Homo sapiens: one gene and its partner. The protein of the gene in region 2 interacts with the protein of the main gene of each other region in a biochemical or structural test. Each region holds a gene or a part of one and is shown on either strand. Other genes may lie near its edges.

What was found.
Region 1: the proteins of MYO6 (region 2) and LMTK2 form a complex in vitro, tested with the Homo sapiens proteins (one study listed by BioGRID).

What each region holds. Positions count from the first base shown.
Region 1 is NC_000007.14:98,193,861-98,200,895, reverse strand, and holds part of LMTK2 (serine/threonine-protein kinase LMTK2 precursor), read right to left. Parts: coding exon 6,324-7,035; intron 1-6,323. UniProt on the Homo sapiens protein: Phosphorylates PPP1C, phosphorylase b and CFTR.
Region 2 is NC_000006.12:75,752,239-75,759,238, reverse strand, and holds part of MYO6 (unconventional myosin-VI), read right to left. Parts: intron 1-7,000. UniProt on the Homo sapiens protein: Myosins are actin-based motor molecules with ATPase activity. Unconventional myosins serve in intracellular movements. Myosin 6 is a reverse-direction motor protein that moves towards the minus-end of actin filaments.

The sequences.
Region 1 (7,035 bases), on a different chromosome or scaffold from region 2:
CAACCAACCAGGACAGAAAACATTCAGAAACAACCACAAATAAGAAATAACAGTATAACAACAACAACAACAACAACAAAATAAATAATACAGTATAACAACTATTTTCATAGCATTTACAGTGTATGAGGCATTATAAGTAATCTAGAGATGACTGAAAGTCTGCAGGAGGATGTGTGTAGGTTATATGCAAATATGATGCCATTTCATATAAAGCACTTGGGCAGCCTCTAATTATGGTATCCAAATTATGGAACCACCACTTCTTGGAAACCAAGGGACAACTCCAGAAACGATCTGAACAGAGATCAGTGACAAGACCACCCGTGCATAACCACACCTGTGCATACTAAGTCCTGTGGTTAGCCTTGCGGAACCCACATATACAAAAAGTCAGCCCTCCGTATCTATACACAGGTTCTACATCCCGAGAATACTGTGCTTTCGATCTGTTTTGGGTTGAAAAGAAGCCATGTTATAAGTACACTCACACAGTTCAAACCCATGTTGCTCCAGGGCCAACTGTATAATACTATTCATTTCCTCTTGAGTTTCTTAGAATGTGTTTGATGACAGAAAGTCAAATGTGTTGCACTGTCTGAGGAGTTATCAGTGTACATGTATGCAACATAGAAGAGCATGTCAAGAAGGGGACGGAGGGCAAAAGGCCTAAGTGACAGTAGGGTTTCCACATTCCATCTGAAATATGCAAATACAGATTCTAAGTAGATTGTGAGAAGTTTAATACATACATTGTAACCCCCAGAACAACCACTACAAAAACTACGCAAAGAGAACAGTGTAAAAAAAAAGAAAAAGAAAAATGTAATACTAAAAATGTTCAATTTATTAAAAAGAGGAAGAATAGAAATAAAAATAGAACAAATAAAATGGTATACGTAAATCCAAAATATCAATAATTTTATTAAAGGTAAATGATCTAAACATACCATTAAAAGGCAGATTTTTCAGAACAGAGTTTTAAAAACCCCATCTAACTATAAGATCTGCAAGAAACTCATGTCAAATATAATGATACAGGTAGATTAAAAGTAAAAGGATGCAAAAGATACACCACGCAAACATTAACCAAAACAACGTGGCCAGGAGCGGTGGCTCACGCCTGTAATCCCAACACTTTCGAAGACCGAGGCGGGCGGATTGCTTGAGCTCAGGAGTTCGAGACCAGCCTGGCCAACATGGTGAAACCCCATCTCTACAAAAAATACAAAAATTAGCTGTGTGTGGTGGTGTGCACCCGTAGTCCCAGTTACTTGTGGGGCTGAGGCAGGAGGACTGCTTGAGCCCAGGAGCTCAAGGCTGCAGTGAGCCAAAATCATACCACTGCACTCCAGCCTGGGTGACAAAGTGAGACTGTCTCCGAAAAAAGAAAGAAAGCTGGAGCAGCTCTATGAATATAAGGCAAAGGAATACAGAAGGACATTACGAAAGGATAAAAAGGTCAATTCAGCAAGAAGACATCATCATCCTCAATGTATATGCATCAACAGAGCTGCAAAATACAGGAAGCGAAAATAAACAGAAATGAAAAGAGAAATAGACAAATCTAAAAATCACAGCTGGAGACTTCAACAACCTCTCTCTGAGTAATAGAACAAGTATGCAGAAAAATCGGCAATGACAGAGAAGAACTAATACCATCAACAAATTAAATCTGACATTTATAGAACGATCCACCCACCAAAACCAAAATACACACTCTTTCAGGTATACATGGAATAATTCACCAAGAAAGACCATATCCTGGCTCTAAGATAAACCTTAACAAATTTAAAAGCATTGAAACCATATTAAATATGTTCTCTGCCCATAATGGAATTAGACTAAAATTTAATAACAAAAAGATACAATAAAATCTCCAACTCTTGGAAATTAAACAATATACTTATTAAACTATATTAACCAATTATTAGTAATTATTAATTATAACTAATATATTAAACTATACTTGTTAATCTATGCTCCCAAGAGGAAGTCTTACAAAAAACTTTTTGATCTGAATGAAAACGAAAACTCACACATTAAAATTTGCTGGGTGCAGCTAAAGTAGTACATAAAGGGAAATTTATAGCATTAAATTATTAGAAAAGAAGAGGCCAGGTGCAGTGGCTCACGTCTATAATCCCAGCACTTCGGGAAGCCAAGGCAGGCAGATTCACCTGAGCTCAGGAATTCGAGACCAGCCTGGGCAACATGACGAAACAAAAAATACAAAAATTAGCCAGGCACGGTGGTGGGCGCCTGTGGTCCCAGCTACTTCAGGAGGCTGAGGCAGGAGAATCCCTTGAGCCTGGGAGGTGGAGGCTGCAGTGAGCAGAGATCGCACTACTGCACTACTACAGCCTGGGCGACAGAGCGAGACCCAGTCTCAAAAAAAGAGAAAAGAGGCCAGGCGCGGTAGCTCAGGCCTGTAATCCCAGCACTCTGGGAGGCCGAGGTGGGCAGATCATGAGGTCAAGAGATTGAGACCATCCTGGCCAACATGGTGAAACCTCGTCTCTACTAAAAATACAAAAATTAGCCAAGCGCGGTGGCACACGCCTGTAATCCCAGCTATTGAGGAGGTGGAGGCAGGAGAATTGCTTGAACGCGGGAGGCGGAGGTTGCAGTGAGCCGATATCACGCCACTGCCCTCCAACCTGGCGACAGAGTGAGACGTCTCAAAAAAAAAAAAAAAGGAGAAAAGAAGTAAGGTCTCGAATTCTAAGCTTTTCTAGAAAAAGCAAAATAAATTCAAAGCAAGGAGAAGGAAGGAAATAATAAAGACAAAGCAGAAATCAACGAAAGAGAAAAGAAAAAAAAATCCATGAAAACAAAAGCAATTTTTTGGAAAGATCAACAAATCTACATAATCTCTTCCAAACACTATCAGAGAAGGAAATACTTCCCAACTCATTTTATGAGACCAGCATTAATTACTCTGATAACAAAACCAAAGACAGTGCCAGCAAACAAACAAAACCCAAACCAACCAAAAAAACCTAGGTGGAGCCCTGAATGTTTATTCCTCAAAGCTGGAGAGCAGGAGCCTCTCAGACAGGGTCTCACTCTGCCATCCCGGCTGCAGTGCAGTGACACAATCATAGCTCACTGCACTCTCAAACTCCTGGGTTTAAGCGATCCTCCTGCCTCAGCCTCCTGAGCAGGTGAGACTATAGGTGCGGGCCACCACAACTGGCCAATTTTTTAAAAATCGGTTCTTATTATGCTGCCTAGACCAGTCTCACCTCCTGGCCTTAAGCGATCCTCCTGCCTCAGCTTTCCAAAATGTTAGGATTATGGGAATGAGCTACTGTGCCCAGCCTTCAGTGCTTGTTTACAGTATGACGGATCAGGCTGGAGGGAACCCTGTCGCACTAATTGCAAGTAAGCATCATTACCCGCTACTTTTGTCTCAAGAACACTGTGCACTGAGGAAGGACATCGCAAGTGCTAAAAGTCGAATGCGATGCCAGGCTGCAGATTGTAAAGGTGCATGCAAGAGGTGGCAGGGCTCAGTGGTGAAAAGTTCTGTGCTCGGTCCAGGAGACTTGGGTCAAGCCCTAGCACTGCTACTCACTGGGGCCAGACCCTGTGCAAAGTTTACCTACTCTGAGCCTCAGGGTCCTCTCCATGAAGATGGTGACAACCACCCCCACATGGGGAAGCAAAACAAGACTCAATGTATAATAAAGGTGCTGGCACCCACAGACTGTTCACCAGCCTTTACTACTTTACACGGTAAGTGCTGGTTAAGTATTTGCTGAACTGACAAATAGTAATATAACCAAGAAACAATTGCTGCCCAATCCCATGAACACTCAGTTAAAAGTTTGGAGCCAAGATACTTCAACTGCTTAAAAACTACACAACTTCAAAACCAGCTCATTAAAAAAGAAAGCAGGAGTGGGAGGAAACCCTCAGTCCTCGGCCTGAACGCTTGGTGGCTGTCGCTTCAAGGCATGCTGCATGAGACGCATAAGCAAACGAATTTCAGATCATCAGAAAGATCTTCCTCATTTTCTTCTGGCCCTGACCCACCTTCCGACTTTCTCCTTGACACTAACTTCCTTGTCAAAGCCTCGCGTCCATTAAGCATGTCTGGTATTTGATCTCTGTACCTTCCATCCCATAACTAGAGTGCCCTTGTCACAGATCTTCATCTTTTGCAATTCTGTCTTCTAAAGTCAGAAAAACATAACATCCTCCACAAAGACTTGTGCAAGGGGCCCATACTCTGCGGCCCCAGGGAGTTTTCTCCACAGGCTGCTTCCACTGGGACTGCGTCCCTCTCACTACTCCAGCTACCCCCAGGCTTTCAGGAAGTGGGGACAGCGTGCTCCCTAGCTCCTAACCGCACTGCTCACCGAGCACAGTTGACAGTTCCGTCCCACCTATACATTACCCCATCCATGGAGAAATGCAGCGATAATCCAAGTTCACAGAGACGGTGGAGAAAGGGCTATGTGGATGCATTGAAAACAAAACACAAACCCGAGGGGCCAGGTGATCCCTTCTCCCTTCCACTCTTACTAGAAAACGGCAGCGTGTTTTCTCAGGCTCCCTGAGCTCAGAGGCTCCTGAGTTCGAGATCTGCCTAGGAACCACCTGGGGAATGAAAAGAGAAAGACGGCCTCCTGGCCCCTCGCAGAATCAGGTTCAAGAGGTCAGGCTGAGCTCAGGAGGCTGCTTTTTTTTTTTTTTTTCTGAGACAGGTCTCACTCTGTCACCCAGGCTGGAGTGCAGTGGTGCAATCTTGGCTCACTGCAACCTCTGCCTCCCAGGTTCAAGCAATTCTCATGCCTCAGCCTCCCAAGTAGCTGGGCCTGCAGTCTTGCCTACCGTGACTGGCTAATTTTTATATTTTTAGTAGAGATGGGGTTTCGCCATGTTGCCCAGGCTGGTCTTGAATTCCCGACGTCAGGTGATCCGCCCACCTTGGCCTCCCAAAGTGCTGGGATTACAGGCATAAGCCACCGCGCCTGGCCTTACTTTTCATTTTTTAAACATCCACTTCCCCGCCATATATGCTATAGCTCAAATGCGGGTGATTTAACGATTTTTAAAGAAACATCATAAAAACCAAAGTGAACAGAACACAGAGGAACAAGGCATAAAGTGACGTTCAACAGACGCAGCTCCTGGGGGAGGAGGTGGAACAGTGCTTGGACCCGCCATAGCCACGGACCCATGAGGGATGGTGCCACGCAGGGGCTGAGACCAAGGTCTGGGTTCCCAGAATGGAGCAAAAGGGAGGGCAAGCAATGTGAAGGAGACGGCGAGGACTCCTGCGCCTTCTAGAAGGTGAGGGGACCCCATTTTCATGTCCCACCACTGAGCTCTCCCAACAATCCAGCTGATGCAAGCAGCAAATTCAAGGGCTACAAAGACTAGTATGAAAAGAACTTTTTTTTTTTTTTTAAAGCATGCTTGAATTATCCGCTGTTACATTTTTAAAGGAGCCTAAATCCATGCCCACTCAGCAGTGCACACTAAGCTGCCTGCTCCAAAGCAGGGAAAGAGGACAGGTCAGGGGACAGAGCAGAAGGACCACAGACGCTCCTGCTGTGTGTCACACCCTCCAGACACCCACCGCAGGGCTTCTGGTTGGCCCCTCTCCTGAGCTGTCTCCAGGGCTGCACGCCAGCCATGGTTCCAGGCTTGTACCCAAGTGGTGGGTCCTACTGCCAATTGTCAGGCTCTAAAAATTGGAGGCCAAGCGCAGTGGCTCATGCCTGTAATCCCAAAACTTTGAGAGGCTGAGGTGGGAGGATGGCTTGAGCCCAGGAGTTTGAGAGCAGCCTAGGCAACATAGCAAGACCGTGTGTCTACAAAAATTAAAAACAAAACAAAACAAAAAAAACACCAAAACCTTAGCCAGCCATGGTGGCATGAACCTGTGGGCCCAGCTATTATGGAAGGTGGGAGGATCACTTGAGCCCAGGAGTTCAAGGCTGCAGTGAGCTGCAACTGTACCACTGCATTCCAGCCTGGGCCACAGAGCAAGGCTGTCTCAAAAGAAAAATAAAAAAGTAAAACAGTAAAAATTTGGTGTGTAAAGGGTGACTAATTCAGGAAGACTCCATTAGAAGACCCAGGAAGAGCATTCGGGTCTCTTTCTCTTAATTTAATACGAACTCCCTGAGCAAATGACATTTCTGCATATTCTTAGAACTCTAACCAACCCCAAATTACTTTTTGTGAGTAATCACAATCTGCTGCCTCAAAATGGCAACTAGAAAACAGACCACACTCAATTTCCTAGCACATTTTGGAATCCTTATATGGATGTGTATAGAAAATGATTTAGAGGGAACAGATACCTGGTCAAACAGGTAGACTGTGACATCATCGAAAAACGTGACTGCCTTCTTTTCCTTCTTCCAGTCCTCGGGCAGTGGGTCGGGGGCATTGGCCGCTGTGGGCTTCAACAGACTCCGCAGGTGCCTTCCGTCCTCGTTGCTGAGGATGATGGGCACGGGGTGCTCGGTCTCGTCCTCCGACTCGGAGCTGAGGCTATGCAGGTTGAAGGCCCGCAGGTCCTCGTCCGAGTCGTCGCTGTTTTCGTCCTCCTCGTCTGCATCCATCCCGTCCTCTGAGAGGTCGAGCATCCCTGACACCCCGAGTTTCCCCAGGTACTTCCCTTCGATGTCCGGCTCCTTCAACTTCGGGCCCTCGGAGTGGCTGGACAGGGACTTGTCCAGCGCAGAATTGGTGTAGGCAAGGAGTTCGTTCGTGTTGGTCCCCGTGGAAGCGAGGGTGCAGGGGCGATCGTCCTGTGTCTCGAAGTCATCGCCGCTGCTAAGTTCTGCATTCAGCACACTCCAGGGACTGCTGGCCTCGTCTTCCGTGGGATGCACCTGCTGGGGAACACCAGTCTGTGCTGGCTCCGGCGTGGCTCTTAATTCCAGGTCACTGGAGTTGTGCAAAGCAGACAGACAACTTTCATCTGGCTGGCTCTTTCTGGCTTCCAGGCAGCTATCCTGGGCAGCAGGACTTTGCTCGGGGAGGACTGGCTCGGGTAGGGGCTGCTCC
Region 2 (7,000 bases):
CATTATCTAAAGAAATCTAAGTTTTTGAAAGTTTTTAAGATCTATAGAAATGACCGGATCTATAGAAACGGCCGGGCGCTGTGGCTCACTCCTGTAATCCCAGCACTTTGGGAGACTGAGGCGGGTGGCTCAGCTGAGGTCAGGAGTTCGAGACCAGCCTGGCCAACATGGTGAAACCCCGTCTCCACTAAAAATATAAAAATTAGCCGGGCATGGTGGCACATGCCTGTGATCCCAGCTACTCAGGAGGCTGAGACATTAGAATCGCTTGAACCTGGGAGGGGGAGATTGCAGTGAGCTGAGATCATGCCACTGCACTCCAGCGTGGGCAACAGGGTGAGACTACATCTCAAAAAAAAAAAAAGATCTATACAAACATGTATTTATACATTTTTACTATTTGTATAATCGTTAAAAATTAACAATTTTAACTAATATTAACTAATCACCTCCGAATGAAGCTAGTTAAAAAGCTGAAACAGGCCAGGCGCGGTGGCTCACGCCTGTAATCCCAACACTCTGGGAGGCCGAGTCGGGCAGATCACGAGGTCAGGAGAGCAAGACCATCCTGGCTAACACAGTGAAACCCCATCTCTACTAAATAAGAAAAATTAGCTGGGCGTGGTGGCGGGAGCCTGTAGTCCCAGCTACTTGGGAGGCTGAGGCAGGAGAATGGCGTGAACCCAGGAGGCGGAGCTTGCAGTGAGCTGAGATGGCAACACTGCACTCCAGCCTGGGTGACAGAGCGAGACTCCATCTCAAACAAACAAACAAACAAAAAGCTGAAACAGTCATTACAATCTAATTTAGGTGCGAAATTTAACACTGCATTGTCTTCTCCATACAATGCTATAAGCCCCAAATAAGCTTTAAAAAAAAGTCAATGAAGAGATTCTGGTAACATATTTCACTTCCCTCTACCACATACTGCCTGGTTAACCCAAGCAAATTGTCGTTAATCTTGTTGAAGCCCTCCCTAACCAAAAGATAAAGAAAAAGTTTAAGCTAGTAGTTCTCTAATTCCAGTTTGCACATAAATCAAAAGGGAAGCTTGCCAACATAGTGAAACCCCGTGTCTACTAAAAATACAAAAATTGGCTGGGCATGGTGGCACGTGCCTGTAGTCCCAGCTACTCGGGAAGCTGAGGCAGGAGAATTGCTTGAACCTGGGAGGCAGAAGGTGTGGTGAGCCAAGATCGCGCTACTGCACTCCAGCCTGGGCAACAGAACGAGACTCCATCTCAAAAAAAAAAAAAAAAAAAAAAAGCCAACTTCAAGATTCCAACCAAATCACTAATATATTGCTCTTCTTGCTTTTCGATGAAAATTCCACATTAAACATGACAAAAAAAAACACAGTAACAACAATAATAATGAATGTACACTATGTGCTAGCCAGTGTGATCTGTGTTTTACATGTATTATTATCTAATTCAATCCTCATAAGAACCACACCAGGTAGGTAATATTGTTACTTCCATTTTATAGATGAGAAAACTGAAGCCTAGAGAAATGAAATAATTTGACCAAGTTAATGAGTGACAAAACCAGGATTGCCTCAGGTCTGCCTATCCTCTTACCCAGGAGCTGGACAAGAAAGCACTGTGCTTAAACGCAACTCTGGAACCCCAGGGCTGTCAGAGAGAGGATTAAGCCTGACGACCAAGTAGTTAGGCAAGTAATACCCTCCCATCTCCTTCCAACCCCAATTCCCACCCCTCACCCAACAAGCTATCCTGACTCCCCACACCCATCACTCCCACACCAAGGTCGCCCACCTCTGTGATGTGTCACACATCCTAGCAGAACATCAGAAGTCTGTCTCTATGTGTGTGTGTGTATATATATGTGTATACATATATATACACACACACACACAGACTTCTGATGTTCTATATGTATATGTATATATGTTCTATATGTATATGTGTGTGTATACATACACACACATATATTGTGTATATGTCTATATACATATATACACACACATATGTATGTATGTCTATATATGTATATGTATATATGTCTATATACATATATACACAATATATGTGTGTATATATGTGTGTATATACATACACACACACAACACACATAAGTACTCTTGTATATACATATATACACATATATACACAATACATATTGCGTATACATATATATACACACTATATATGTGTGTATACATATATACACATATATACACACTATATATGTGTGTATACATATATACACACTATATATGTGTGTATACATATATACACACTATATATGTGTGTATACATATATACACATATATACACACTATATATGGTGTGTATATATATGTGTATATATATATATATATACACACACAACACACATAAGTACTCTTTCCACATTAGTATCTACTACCTGCTTAGTACTAGCAGAGACCCAAATTCCAGCACCACCAAATAAGCTTGAGCAAATTTAACATCTCTGCCCCTCAGTTTCCTAATCTGTAAAATGAAGGTCATAACACCAGCACCACTGAGGTGACACAGTGATTGAGCTAATGTATACAAAAATACTCACTTGGCATAATATCTGACATGGTAGTAAAAGCTCAATAAACAATAGCTGCTATTGGCCAGGCACAGTGGCTCATGCCTGTAATCTCAGCAGTTTGGGAGGCGAAGGCGGGCAGATCACCTGAAGTCAGAAGTTCGAGACCAGCCTGGCCAACATGGTGAAACCCCACCTCTACTACAAATACAAAAATTAGCCAGGCATGGTCGTGAGCACCTGTAATCCCGGCTACTCAGGAGGCTGAGGCAGGGGAATCGCTTGAACCCGAGAGGCGGAAGTTGCAGTGAGCCAAGATTGCACCACTGCACTCCAGCCTGGGTGACAGAGCGAGACTCCGTCTCAAAAAAAAAGAAAAAACAATAGCTGCTATTAAAATTATACTTTGCTAACCTCTTCTCTTACAACACCAACATATCAGTCCTAGTCCCATTTGTTTTTTGCTTGCTTGTTGTTTTTTTTTTTTGAGACAGAATCTGGCTATGTTGCCTAGGCTGGCCTCAAACACCTGGGCTCAAGCATTCCTCCTGCCTCAGCCGCCTGAGTAGCTAGGACTACAGGTAAGCATCACCGTGTCCAATTCTAGTTCCCATTTATTTTCTCTCAGTTTTCTTTGCTAAAAGTGTGATAAATGATGGAACATACTTATATTTATCAAAGCAGGTTGGTAACAGCGCCATAACCCAATAGTCTGGGAGTCTTCGACAGATAGGTCAGAAATATTCCAGAGCAAGTAAGTCATGCAGTAGCCTTTAAATTGCACAATTTTGACAACTGCCTATTTCCCAACTTTAGGGTCAGCCCTGTTGATTACATCCTAGTATGAAGAGTCTATAATTAACTTAATTCAAAACAACAATAAAATGTCAGTACAGGGGCTTGGTCTTAATTTAATCACTGTATCCCTAGAACTTAGAATAGTGCCTGGTCCGTGGTAGACACTACAGTACGTTTTAAATAAATGAAGACATAAAGGAACCAACACAGACGCACACACAGTTCTTTAGTGAGTCTTTACAAAGACAGTTGTAACTATCGGATCACTACCAATGCACAAAGTAATAAAAGTTATTTTCAAAATTCCCCCAGAACATTTTTCTCCTTCCTTTTTTTAACTAATTGTTCTTTAAAAATTCTCCAACTAGAAAAGCTAATTACCAATTTCAGTCTAGCAATCTATTTAAAATGTTAAAGTAGTTCCATAATGATGCATCATGCTCATCTTCTATCTTCCATTAAAAAATAACCTGTAACAATTTAATAATCACCATTTTAGTGACCCTAATTTTTCAGAACTTCCTGAACCACCTGACTTGAAGCCATAATGTGAGGTTAAATACATAAGCAATAGGGGGAAAGTGGAGGACTTACTACTTTGGGACTACACAGAGATGATGCTTCTAAGTAGCCACATTGACCTTGAACAAGTTACTTAATTTTAAGTAATGTATTTATTTATTTAGAGACGGGATCTTGCTCTGTCACCCAGACTGGAGTGCAGTGGTGCAATCACAGCTCACTGCAGCCTTGACCTCTTGGGCTCAGGAGATCCTCCAACCTCAGCCTCCTACACAGCTAGCACTATAGGCGTGCACCACCACACCCAGCTAATTTTTGTATAATATTTTTTGTGAAAGGGTTTCACCATGTTGCCCAGGCTGTTCTCAAACTCCTGGGCTAAAGTGATCCTCCCAACCTCAGCCTCCCAAAGTGCTGGGATTACCGGCATGAGCCACCACATGCAGCCAGTATTTTTAATTTTTTGAGTCTCCATTTCCTTACCTGTAGAAAAGGAATAAATTTACTAAATCTACTTCATCAAGTTGTTTTAAGGACCAAATGCATACAAAAATATTTTAAAGCAATAAAATGCCATCCAAATATAAGTTATTAGCTTTTGACGTATATGTCTTTGGATTTCAAATGGATGGTTTCTATTTATTTTTTCATATCTCTGCAACTCTTCCTATTTCCTGGATCCAAAGATATGCCAGCACAGGGAGGAATCAGTTCACACTTGTCATATCTAAAACACAGTGGGCCCTCAGTAAATATCTGTTGAAAAAGATGTTCATCCACATAGATCAGAAATCAAAAAATTCTGCCACAGAAAATATATTACCTTGTAAAGGTTAGTCAGCGGCTTACTTTTTTTTTTTTTTTTTTTTTTTTTTTGAGACGGAGTCTCACTCAATCGTCCAGGCTGGACTGCAGTGGCCCAATCTCAGTGCACTGCAACTTCCACCTGCCAGGTTCAAGTGATTCTCATGCCTTGGCCTCCCAAGTAGCTGGGATTACAGGCACCCACCACCACACCCAGCTAATTTTTGTATTTTTAGTAGAGATGGGGTTTCACCACATTGCCCAGGCTGGTCTGAACTCCTGACCTCAGGTGATCCACCCACCTTGGCCTCCCAAAATGCTGTGATTACAGGTGTGAGCCACCACGCCCCAGCCAGGTTATTTTCAAATGAAATAACAAATGACCTAACATACTCAAAAGATGACTGTGTTTTTGTCAAGAGTTTCCTTTGTGCACATTACTCAGCATCATATTTACCCCATGTGAATATACACTGAAGGAATGTGCTTTGGTGTTTTGGTTTCACTTGAGACATGCCTTCTGTATAAAAAATTATTTCCTCTCTCTTTAGCACCAGCAAGATTTCTAAAGATGCCAGATTTCTTCTTTAGGTTTTACTTTTTATGCTTCAGTACTCACAGGGAAAACTTTTGGTGGACTTATGGTCATTTCTCAAACCATTATGTCATTCTTACACTAATCAATAAGAAAAATAAGCTAATTTTTGAAAACAGTAACTAGAAAGACGTTGCAAAATATTTAAAGATTCTAGTCCACTCAAATTTGTCAAATAAAATCAGAACCATTTTAAATGAAAAGATCCTGGTTCCTCTGAACATTATATAATGCCGGCAAGGCACGGTAGCTCATGCCTGTAATCCCAGTACTTTGGGAGCCCGAGGCAGCACACTATCTGAGCTCAGGAGTTCAAGACCAGCCTGGGCAACATGGCAAAACCCCTCTCCACCAGAAACACAAAAAAGTTAGCCAGGCATGGTGACATACACCTGTGGTCCCAGCTACTCCGGAGACTGAGGTGGGAGTGTCACTTGAGCCTGGGAGATGGAGGTTGCAGTAAGCCGAGATCATGCCACTGCATGTGGCATGAATGAGACTCTGTCTCCAAAAAACATATATATATATATATATATATATACACACACACACACATATATAGATCATAGATACATGCATATAGATATAATGCCTCCAAAAGAGAACTTAAGCTTATTTAACTCTACTTCTTGATGTGTGTGTCACAGATCTATTACCAATTTATATTAGTAATATTACTAATTTATATTAGGTGGTGGTTTTGTATTTACAGTTGAATATGAATATCCTTGAGATGCACAATTCCTAATAGTTCAAAGCAAATAATGAAAAAAATCCGTAATGGTAGCCACCCAACTCAGCCTTCCTACCTTGCTTCTGCTCATTTACCCAACTACATCCTACTGCTGAAATGCATGATTCCTAGTTTGTTACCAGAAAAAATGGGCTTATTTGCTCACTGTTGTCATTTATGTCTATTGCGGCTCAAGGGATATTCCACAGACCATAGAAAAGATTTGTACTAATAGTTTCTAAGTGACAATTTAATCATAATCTAAAAACGAGTCCCCCCTCTCAAGATTAGAGAATTAATTATGTAATATTTAAAGGATAGCTACTGCATAAATAATTATCTTTTTCATTAGAGGAAAATTTTAAAGTTCTATCCCAACCAGGAACATTACAATCTAATTCTAGTTCTCACAAACCTATCAAAGTTAAACACATACATATGTTTAACAGCATACATACATGCACAATACATATAATGTCCTAGAACTATACGAGAAATGAGAAAGCAGCAGCATCAGTGTTCAAGGCTGTCAACTTGAGAATGAAGACACAAACACAGGATTCTAAATTTGTTCCAGAACTACATTCACGGCCTATCATATCTACTCCTGGATGCTTTTGTCAAACCTTGAATTACATTCTTTGACATAATACCAGTTTTGCCGGTTTAAACAGTCCACCAAGTGAACTGAAACCAAGGCAAACTGTTCTGGTGGAAAAAACAGGGGCTTCGTGGTCAAATGACTCAGGTGTGAATCCAGACTTTGCCCTTCTGGAGCAAGCATTTAATTCTTTGAGACTAGACTCCCTCATCTGTAAAAGGACAAGACCATTAGCCTAGAAAATTATTTTGTAGATCAAGCCCCTCAATCTGTGATCTGTCCAATTATGGAAGATGCCTAATAAATGTGCAACAATCTTATACTAGTAAAGGGCCAGTTCACAAATTATTATGAAATATCTCATTATGGGTATCATAATTAAACTCTATGAAACTGCAATCCCAGCACTTTGGGAGGCCAAGGC